Regions from separate parts of the Homo sapiens genome. Here region 1 is linked to region 2. The links come from fine-mapping of genetic effects on gene expression. A gene starts in region 2. The other region holds a variant in brackets. All regions are shown on one strand. Distances are from middle to middle.

The links. PIP is the estimated chance that this variant, and not a neighbour inherited with it, causes the effect.
Region 1: its variant is the best candidate, but not a certain one, in a credible set for the expression of ZNF132 in whole blood (TOPMed, PIP 0.56).

Annotation. Positions count from the first base shown.
Region 1 is chr19:58,410,407-58,415,616 of GRCh38, forward strand. It overlaps ZNF584 (zinc finger protein 584), which reads left to right. Exons shown (of 4, transcript NM_173548.3): 3 at 5,118-5,210. Among named protein-coding and RNA genes, the nearest start is that of ZNF584, 4.4 kb to the left of the region's middle. The variant G/A (reference allele first, on the strand shown) is at 3,010.
Region 2 is chr19:58,438,234-58,443,443 of GRCh38, forward strand. It overlaps ZNF132 (zinc finger protein 132), which reads right to left and starts at 1,920. Exons shown (of 3, transcript NM_003433.4): 1 at 1,526-1,920. The coding sequence starts at 1,588. It overlaps ZNF132-DT (ZNF132 divergent transcript), which reads left to right and starts at 2,215. Exons shown (of 1, transcript NR_186311.1): 1 at 2,215-5,210. It also overlaps a transcript of ZNF324B not described here. RefSeq lists enhancers at 1,586-2,096, 2,329-2,458, 2,608-3,117.

The sequences.
Region 1 (5,210 bases), 28 kb before region 2:
TGAAGACATGGCTTCTCTGTGCTCTGGGTTTTGCCTCCCTACAAAAGAAATTTTACAGGGACCTCCCTGGGCCAGGCTTGAGCCATGAATTTTAATCAGAACGGTTTGGGAAATATATATATATATATATATATATATATATATATATATATGTGTATATATATATGTATATATATGTATATATATGTATATATATGTATATATATGTGTATATATGTGTATATATGTGTATATATATGTGTATATATGTGTATATATGTATATATGTGTATATATATGTATATATGTATATATATATGTATATATGTGTATATATATATGTATATATATATATGTGTGTATATATATATATATATGTATATATATATATAATTTTTTTTTTTTTTTTTTTTTTTTTTTTTTTGAGACAGAGCCTCACTCTGTTGCCCAGGCTGGAGTGCAGTGGCGCAATCTCGGCTCACCACAACCTCTGCCTCCAGGGTTCAAGCGATTCTCCTGCCTCAGTCTCCCGAGTAGCTGGGACTACAGGCTCGCGCCACCATGCCTGGCTAATTTTTGTATTTTTAGTAGAGACAGGGTTTCACTTTGTTGGCCAGGCTGGTCTTGAACTCCGGACCTCATGATCTGCCTGCCTTGGCCTCTCAAAGTGCTGGGATTACAGGCGTGAGCCACTGCGCCTGGCCACAAAGGTACTTCTTTCGTTAAATTTATTCCTAAGTACTTTATTCTTCACTGTTAAGTATGGTGTTAGCTGTTGGTTTTTTGCAGATGCCCATTTCAGGTGAGGAAGTTCCCTTCTCTTTCTAGTTCATTTAATGTGTTTATTAAGAAAAGTCATGGCCAGGTGCAGTGGCTCATGCCTGTAATTTCAGCATTTTGGGAGGGCGAGGCAGGTGGATTACCTGAGGTCAGGAGTTCAAGACCAGCGTGGTCAACATGGTGAAACCCCATCTCTACTAAAAATAGAAAACTAGCCAGGTGTGGTGGCACATGCCTGTAATCCCAGCTACTAGGGAAGCTGAGGCAGGAGAATCGCTTGAACCTGGGAGGTGGAGGTTGCAGTGAGCTGAGATCGCACCATTGCACTCCAGCCTGGGCAACAAGAGTGAAACTACGTCTCAAAAAAAAAAAAGAAAAGAAAGGTCACTAGATTTTGTCAAATGCTTTTCCAATGTCTAATGAAATGATCATGTGATTTTTGTCCTCTCTTCTGTTAATGTAGTATATTAGAATAATTGATTGCCTTTTCTTTTTTTGAGACGGAGTCTTGTTCTGTCGCCAGGCTGGAGTGCAGTGGCGCGATCTCGGCTCACTGCAACCTCCACCTCCCGGGTTCAAGTGATTTTCCTGCCTCAGCCTCCCAAGTAGCTGGGACTATAGGCGTGCACCACCACGCCCAGCTAATTTTTGTATTTTTCGTAGAGATGGGGTTTCACCATGTTTGCAAGGATGGTCTTGATCTCTTGACCTCGTGATCTGCCCCCGTCGGCCTCCCAACACTAATTGTTGATTTTCATATGTTCAACCTTGCATTACTGGGATAAATTCCCTGTCATGGCTTATAATACTTGTTTTTTTTTTTTTTTTTTTTTTTAGACAGAGTCTTACTCTGTCGCCCAGGCTGGAGTTCAGTGGCATGATCTCGGCTCATTGCAACCTCCACCTCTTGGGTTCAAGTGATTCTCCTGCCCCCGCCTCCTGAGTAGCTGGGTTACAGGCATGCACCACTATGCCTGGCTAATTTTTTTATTTTTAGTAGAGACAGGGGTTTCACCATGTTGGCCAGGGTGGTCTTTTTTTTTTTTTTTTTTTTTGAGACGGAGTCTCGCTCTGTCGCCCAGGCCGGACTGCGGACTGCAGTGGCGCAATCTCGACTCACTGCAAGCTCCGCTTCCCGGGTTCACGCCATTCTCCTGCCTCAGCCTCCCGAGTAGCTGGGACTACAGGCGCCCGCCACCGCGCCCGGCTAATTTTTTGTATTTTTAGTAGAGACGGGGTTTCACCTTGTTAGCCAGGATGGTCTCAATCTCCTGACCTCATGATCCACTCGCCTCGGCCTCCCAAAGTGCTGGGATTACAGGCGTGAGCCACCACGCCCGGCCTGGCCAGGGTGGTCTTGAACTCCCGACCTCAGGTGATCCACCCATCTCGGCCTCCAAAGTGCTGAGATTACAGGTGTGAGCCACCACACCCAGCCAGTGGTGTAGTTTTCTTATAATGTCTCTGTATTGAGTATGAGGGTAATTTTGGCCTCAATGGATGAGTTGGGAATGTTTCCTTCTCTTCTGTTTTCTGGAAGAGTTTCTTAAGTATTGGTGTTAATTCTTATTTCAGTATTGTTAGTATTCACCTTTGAAGCCATCAGGGCTTGGGGTTGTGTGTGTTTTGGGGGGAATGTTTTTTAATAACAACAAGAAAACCCTCTTTGTTACATTTGTATTTAGATTTTCTGTTTCTTCTTGACTCAGTTTTGATAGTTTGTGTCTACTTGGGAATTTGTCCATTTCATCTAAGTTATCCAATTTGTTGGCATACATTTGTACATAGTATTTCATTATTTTTTAATTTTTATAAGGTTACTAGTGATGTCCTTTTTCCATTCCTGTTCAAAGTAGTATTGAGTCTTCTCTCTGTTTTTTGTCACTCTAGGTAAACATTTGCCAATTTTGTTGATTTTTTCAAAGAACCAAATTTTGGTTTGTCGGTTCTCTTTTTCTAATCTGTTTCATTCGTTTCTGCTCTAATTTTTATTATTTCCCTCCTTTTGCTATCTTTGGGTTTGTTTTTCTTTTTCTTGTTCCTTGAGGTATAAAGTTAGGTTATTGGTTTGAGATCTTTTAAAATATGGGTATTTATAGCCATAATGTTCCTGCTAAGCTCTGCATTTTCTGCATCCCATAATTTTTTGTTTGTTGTGGTATTTTTTTCTTTTTCTTTTTCTTTTTTTTTAATTTTTCTTTTTGAGATGGAGTCCTGTTGCCCACGCTGGAATGCAATGGTGCGATCTCG[G/A]CTCAATGCAATCTCCACCTCCTGGGTTCAAGCAATTCTGCTGCCTCAGCCTCCCAAGTCGCTGGGATTACAGGCATGTGCCACCATGCCTGGCTAATTTTTTTTTTTTTTTGAGGTGGAGTCTGATGCCTCCCAGGCTGGAGTGCAGTGGTGCGATCTTGGCTCACTGCAACCTCCGCCCCCCAAGTTCAAGCGATTCTCCTGCCTCAGCCTCCCGAGTGGCATGGTCCACCACACCTGGCTAATTTTTGTATTTTTTTTTTTTGGTAGAGACAGGGTTTCGCCATGTTGGCCAGGCTGGTCTTGAACTCCAGACCACAGGTGATCCACCCACCTCAGCCTACCAAAGTGCTGGGATTACAGGCGTGAGCCACCACCCGGCCTGTTGTATTTTTCTTTTCTTTTCTTTTTTTCTTTTTTTGAGATGGAGTCTTGCTCTGTCACCCAGGCTGGAGTGCAGTGGCACTATCTCGGCTCACTGCAAGCTCCGCCTCCTGGATTCATGCCATTCTCCTGCCTCAGCCTCCCGAGTATCTGGGATTACAGGCGCCCACCACCACGCCTGGCTAATTTTTTTTTGTATTTTTAGTAGAGACGGGGCTTCACTGTGTTCGGCAGGATGGTCTCAAACTCCTGACCTTGTGATCCACCTGCCTCGGCCTCCCAAAGTGCTGGGATTACACTTGAGCCACCACACCCAGCCCTGTGTTTTTATTTTCATTCCTCCCAAAGTACTTGTAATTGTCATGTGATTTATTTTTTCTTTGACTCTGGATTTTTAGGAATGTTTTGTTTAAATTCCTTAAATTTGTGAGTTTCCTAAATTTCTTTCTGTTGTTGATTTCTGTTTTAATTCATTTGTGGACAGAGAACATACTTGACATTATTTCAATCCTTTGAAATCTACTGAGGCTTGCTTTATTTATTTATTTATTTATTTTGAGACAGAGTCTTGCTCTGTCGCCCAGGCTGGAGTGCAGTGGCGCGATCTCAGCTCACTGCAAGCTCTGCCTCCTGGGTTCACGCCATTCTCCTGCCTCAGCCTCCTGAGTAGCTGGGACTACAGGCGCCTGCCACCATGCCCGGGTAATTTTTTTTTTGTATTTTTAGTAGAGATGGGGTTTCACTGTGTTAGCCAGGATGGTCTTGATCTCCTGACCTCATGATCTGCCCGTCTCGGCCTCCCAAAGTGCTGGGATTACAGGCATGAGCCACCGCGCCCAGCCGAGGCTTATTTTATATCCTAGCAAATGGTATGTTCTGAAGACCGTTCCATGTGCACGTGACAATGTATATCCTGCTGTTGTTAGGTGGCAAGCTCTATAGATGTCTGTTAGGACTAGTTGGTTTTCATTGTTGTTCAAGTCTGCTGTTGTTATTGATGGTGGGAAATTACAATCGTTATTATTGCTGAACAGTCTGTTTCTTCAGTTATGTCAGTTTTGCTTCATAGAAAGGCTTTTTTTTTTCTTTTTGTTTGTTTGTTTGTGTTTTTGAGACAGAGTCTCGCACTGTCGCCCAGGCTGGAGTGCAGTGGTGTGATCTCAGCTCACTGCAAGCTCTGCCTCCCAGGTTCATGCCATTCTCCTGCCTAAGCCTCCCGAGTAGCTGGGACTACAGGTGCCCGTCACCACATCCGCCTGATTTTTTTGTATTTTTAGTAGAAGGGGGGTTTCACCGTGTTAGCCAGGATAGTCTTGATCTCCTGACCTCGTGATCCGCCCACCTTGGCCTCCCAAAGTGCTGGGATTACAGGCGTGAGCCACTGCGCCCGGCCTGTTTGTTTGTTTTTGAGACAGGGTCTCACTCTGTTGCCCAGGCTAGAGTCCAATGGTGTGATCGTGACTCACTGACGCTTTGACCTCCTAGGCTCAAGTGATCCTCTCACTATGGCCTCCCTAGTAACTGGGACTACAGGTGGTGCATGCCATCATGCCTGGCTAATTAAAATAATATATTTTTTGTAGAGTTGGGGTCTTACTGTGTTGCCCAGGCTGGTTGCGAACGTCTGGGTTTAAGTGATCTCCTACCTCACTTTCCAAAGTGCTGGGATTACAGGCATCAGCCACCATGCCCAGCCTGTTTCTTTTACTACCTGTCACCCGCAGGACTTGCACCTTCGAGATCCCCTGTGTTTACCCAGCTGGAGGATGATGAACAGTCGTGGGTGCCCAGCTGGGTGGATGTGACTCCAGTCAGCA
Region 2 (5,210 bases):
CTATCTTGAACCCAACCCACAACTGCATGCAGTGTCCACACACAAGCATCCATCCCTTGGATGTTTCCAGCCTAAACCCGACATAATTTCATAATCACATGTTTAGTGGTCTACTTGGCACCTCAATTTGGTAGTGTCTGGGACATCTCAAATACAACATGGCCAAAATCCAACTCTTTATCTTCCCCCTGAAATCTACTCCTCACACCAACTTCCACATCTGAAAGATCTAAGGTCAATTTTTTTTTTTTTTTTTTTGAGACAGAGTCTCGCTCTGTCACCCAGGTTGGAGTGCAGTGGCGCGATCTTGGCTCACTGCAAGCTCCGCCTCCCGGGTTCAAGCCATTCTCCTGCCTCAGCCTCCCGAGTAGCTGGGACTACAGGCACCCACCACCACGCCTGACTAATTTTTTGTATTTTTAGTAGAGATGGGGTTTCACCGTGTTAGCCAGGATGGTCTCAATCTCCTGACCTAGTGATCCACCTGCCTCGGCCTCCCAAAGTGCTGGGATTACAGGCGTGAGCCACCACGCCCGGCAATTTTTTTTTTTTTTTAAGACAGAGTCTCGCTCTGTCACTCAGGCTGGAGCGCAGTGGCACGATCTCAGCTCAATGCAACCTCCATCTCCCAGATTCAAACAGTTCTTCTGCCTCAGTTTCCCAAGTTGCTGGGATTACAGGTGCACACTACCATGTCCTGGCTAATTTTTCTGTATTTTTAGTAGAGGTGGGGTTTCGCCACGTTGGCCAGGCTGGTCTTGAACTCCTGACCTCAAGTGATCTGGCCGCCTTGGCCTCCCAAAGTGCTGGGATTACAAGTGTGAGCCACTGCACTCAGCCTTAGGTCAATCTTAACATTTCACTTTCTTTCACTGTCCCACATCAGGTAATCCATGGCCCAGTTTGGGCAGATTCAGAAGCCAACCATCTGTCCTACCTCCACGGGCACCCCTCTGTCCAGCTACCCAAAGCACACATCTGGACCACATCTGTCAGCTCCTCACTGGCCTTCCTGCTCCACCATCACCATCCCTCCAGTCTGCTGCCCACTAGGCATCCATAGGGCGTCTGTTAAGACTGGAGTCAGAGCACCTACTTCCTCTACTCCAAACCTTCCATGGCTCCCACCACCATCAGAATAGAGGTCCAGCTCCTCAGGCTGCCATTCCAGGCCTAACTATTGGTTTCCCTTCCCTGTTTCCACCAGACTAAATGGAGACCGGCAGTCCCCAGAATGCTTCCATTTCATCACCACTAAACAAGGTACACATGCTGGTCACTGTCCCTGGGACAGCCTTCCAGATCTCATTCCACAGGATTCCAGAAATGGGAATCCCTCGATATAACCCCTTGCCTGGATTCAGGATGGTAAGGGTAAGTGACTCCCAGGGCAGGGCCCAGGACCCACGTGTGAGGACAGGACACGATCAAGAGTCCCAGGACACCAACATCCCCTCTATCTGGGCTTCAGGATCCTGAGGGCCGGAATCCCAGCGGGTGAGGGCCTGGGGCACACTCCACTTACCTGCGCCGGGCCCATCAGCAACGCTGGCAACCCCATTAGAACCTGTGGGCTGGGCAGGGCCATAACAGGAGGCCCAGGGCTAGCCCTGCCGCTGGGCCGAACCCTCACACTTCCGCTGGGTGACGGTCGCACTCAGGACCTGTCTTCCCAAATGCAAAATGCGCGCAAGGCCTCTGGGCACCGCAGGGACGAAGGCTGGGTATGGAGACCCTGGAGACGCGTGGCGCTGGCTCCACTTTCGGGAACACCTTGGCTCATAAAAGCAGAGTAATTAGCCGGGCACTATGGTGCGTGTGAAGGCGCGGTGACGGTCCCTGCACCCACTCCCGTGCCCTGGTGTGGCTCCAGAGGCCTGCTGTAGCCCAACCCACCAGCAGCAAAATGAGGACCGCAATGGCGGCGCCGGAAGTCCCGCCTCTCAATGACAGCTCGGACTTGCCACTGGTCCGAGCTTTCATTGGCTCAAGGATCCCCGCCGTCTATGACGCTATTTCCCTATGCCCGTCACGCTACTGCTAGGTCGTTGCCAAGGTGATTGAGGAATGGCGTTTATTGCGTCGCTGCTCAGGCAACGCAAACTACATTATCCAGAAGGACCCTCGCGGTGCCTCAGGGCTGGCCATTGGCAGCCGAGGAGACAGGCACTTCCGGGCGGAGTGTAAGACGCTGGCCAATCACAGCCTGGCAGCGGGACTTCCGTCGTCGTCCTCGGACCATCACTTTGGCATTTCTCGATTTTGTCTGCTTCTGAAGGGACCGCGTTGTCAGGCGAGGGACGGAATCTTGGAGGCTCCCTGGGCCCATGGAAACAGGAGCGAGGAAGGCACGAGAGTCGGGGAAGTTCCGCCTTCTTGACATACAAGCGCCCCCACCGCGGCGAATATCGCCCCTGAGCCCAGTGTTCGCCCCCCACAACACCGCACCCCCCTTCCCCACCCTGTGCCTTAGATAAAGCCGGCCCAGTGGGACCCTCAGGTTGCACCGCGCGGAGGTGTCCGCGGCTCTCGGGAGTCGTCGCCCTTGGCGTTATGTTGGCTTTAGGGAGCGCGAGGCCGAGGCCAAGAAAAGCTACGCATTGGGAGGTCTTGACCCAGTGTGCGCCCGGCTGTAGGCATGGAACGTGCGCCAAAGGTCTCCTGGCACCCACTCCGCTGGACTCAGCACCATTGTCCTAAGTCTCCGATTGAGAAGTATCTGCCCCAGGTCCTCTGCGGGCCCCACTGAACAGTGTGGAGCGTTCACAGGTTGGGGGTCACCATTTCAGAATCCAGTTTGTTGAGACGTGGAGGGTACAGGAGGAGGGATCTGCATATGCGAAGACTTGGACTTGACCCTGACCTGAGCGTTCAGGCAGGCTCTCATGCCCCCTTGGCAGCGAGTGGAGAGCGTAAGAGGAGTCCTGCCTCTCCTGGCACACCGAGGGCGCCTGGGAGCCATGAAAGGTGTTGAACAGAAAAGGGATGGACATGACCTGAGTTAGAATTTGGAAAGTATTTCAGTGGTTGCTGAATGAACACACTACTGGAGAAGGTGGTTGTAGTGGGGCTGGAAGCAGGGAGACTGTGGGGGAGGTTATTGCAGTATTGTTCCAGACAGTTATGATAGTGGCCTGTCCAGAACGGAAGCAAGAAGGATGGGAGAAGTGATCAGATTCCCAGTGGATCTTCAAGATAGAGCTAATGGAATTTTTTGCTACCTTAGATAAGTGGAATAAGCATGAGTAGGGGTGAAGGACCATCCCAAGTAGTTAGGAAGAATTAGGATGCCTCCTGTGGAGAATAGAGGTTGGCAGTTGGCAGGAGGAGGATGTTTCATGGAAGATTAGCGATGGATTTTGTAGGTATAGAGTCTGAATTGTCTGGAGACCTGTGAGTGGAGGTGTCAAATGGGCCTCTGGATATATAGAATTCTGGTGTGGCTTCAGGACGTCCAGACTGCATTATGTTGGTGGCCTGGCCCAGTGAACGGCCTGAGGATAGGATTTGGGAAGGAGGGTTTTAGGTTGGAGGACCAGTGGCTAGGGCTCACGCTCAGTGCTTAGATCACATCTGTCTGCCCATTGGCTTGGTGTTGCAGGGCTTAATGACCTTTGAGGACAGGGTCAGTACATCTTCCAAGAATGTGGGGCTCCTTAGTGAGGTCCAAGGGGGCTTCTACAGTGACATGATACTACAGAGCTTTGTACTCCAGTGCCCACTAGGTAAGGCTACTGTGTCTCCTCTTTCCCCTACACATGAAATCTAGGTTTTCCTCCGCCTTTCCATTGTTCCCTCTGGGAGGTGCTGCTGGCCCTGGCACTGGCCAGTGTCCTGCTGTGTCCGGAATTGTTTCCTTCCTCTGGGTTCTTGGTCTCGCTGACTTCAAGAATAAAGCCGCGGACCCTCGTGTTGAGTGTTACAGTTCTTTTTTTTTTTTTTTTTTGAGACGGAGTCTCGCTCTGTCGCCCAGGCCGGACTGCGGACTGCAGTGGCGCAATCTCGGCTCACTGCAAGCTCCGCTTCCCGGGTTCACGCCATTCTCCTGCCTCAGCCTCCCGAGCAGCTGGGACTACAGGCGCCCGCCACCGCACCCGGCTAATTTTTTTTTTTTGTATTTTTAGTAGAGACGGGGTTTCACCTTGTTAGCCAGGATGGTCTCGATCTCCTGACCTCATGATCCACCCGCCTCGGCCTCCCAAAGTGCTGGGATTACAGGCGTGAGCCACCGCGCCCGGCCCTGTTACAGTTCTTAAAGATGGTGTGTCCGGAGTTTGTTCCTTCAGATGTTCAGATGTGTCTGGAGTTTTTTCCTTCTGGTGGGTTCGTGGTCTTGCTGACTTCAGGAGTGAAGCTGCAGACCTTCGCAGTGAGTGTTACAGCTCTTAAAGGTGGCACATCCAGAGTTGTTCATTCCTCCTGGTGGGTTCGTGGTCTCGCTGACCTCAGGAGTGAAGCTGCAGACCTTTGCAATGAGTGTTACAGCTCGTAAAGGTGGCGTGTCCAATGTTGTTTGTTCCTCCCAGTGGGTTTGTGGTCTCGCTGGCTTCAGGAGTGAAGCTGCAGACCTTTGTGGTGAGTGTTATAGCTCATAAAGGTAGTGTGGACCCAAAGAGTGAGCAGCAGCAAGATTTATTGCGAAGAGCAAAAGAATAAAGCTTCTACAGCATGGAAGAGGACCCGCGGGTTGCCGCTGCTGGCTTGGGTGGCCAGCTTTTATTCTATTTGGCCCTGCCCACATCCTGCTGATTGGTCCATTATACAGAGCACTGATTGGTCCATTTTACAGAGCACTGATTGGTCCATTTTACAGAGCACTGATTGGTCCATTTTTACAGAGTGCTGATTGGTGAGTTTACAAACCTATAGCTAGACACAGAGTGCTGATTGGTGCATTTACAATCCTTTAGCTAGACAGAAAAGTTTTCCAAGTCCCCAGCCAATTAGCTAGACACAGAGCGCTGATTGGTGCGTTTACTAACCTTTAGGGAGACACAGAGCGCTGATTGGTGCATTTTTACAGAGTGCTGATTGGTGCGTTTACAAACCTTTAGCTAGACACAGAGCGCTGATTGGTGTGTTGGCAGTCCTTTAGCCGGACAGAAAAGTTCCCCAAGTCCCCACTGGACCCAGAAGCCCAGCCGGCTTCACTTTTCACTGCTACTTATCCCTGGCTGCTGCATAAACAACCCCCACACCTTCCCTGGGAT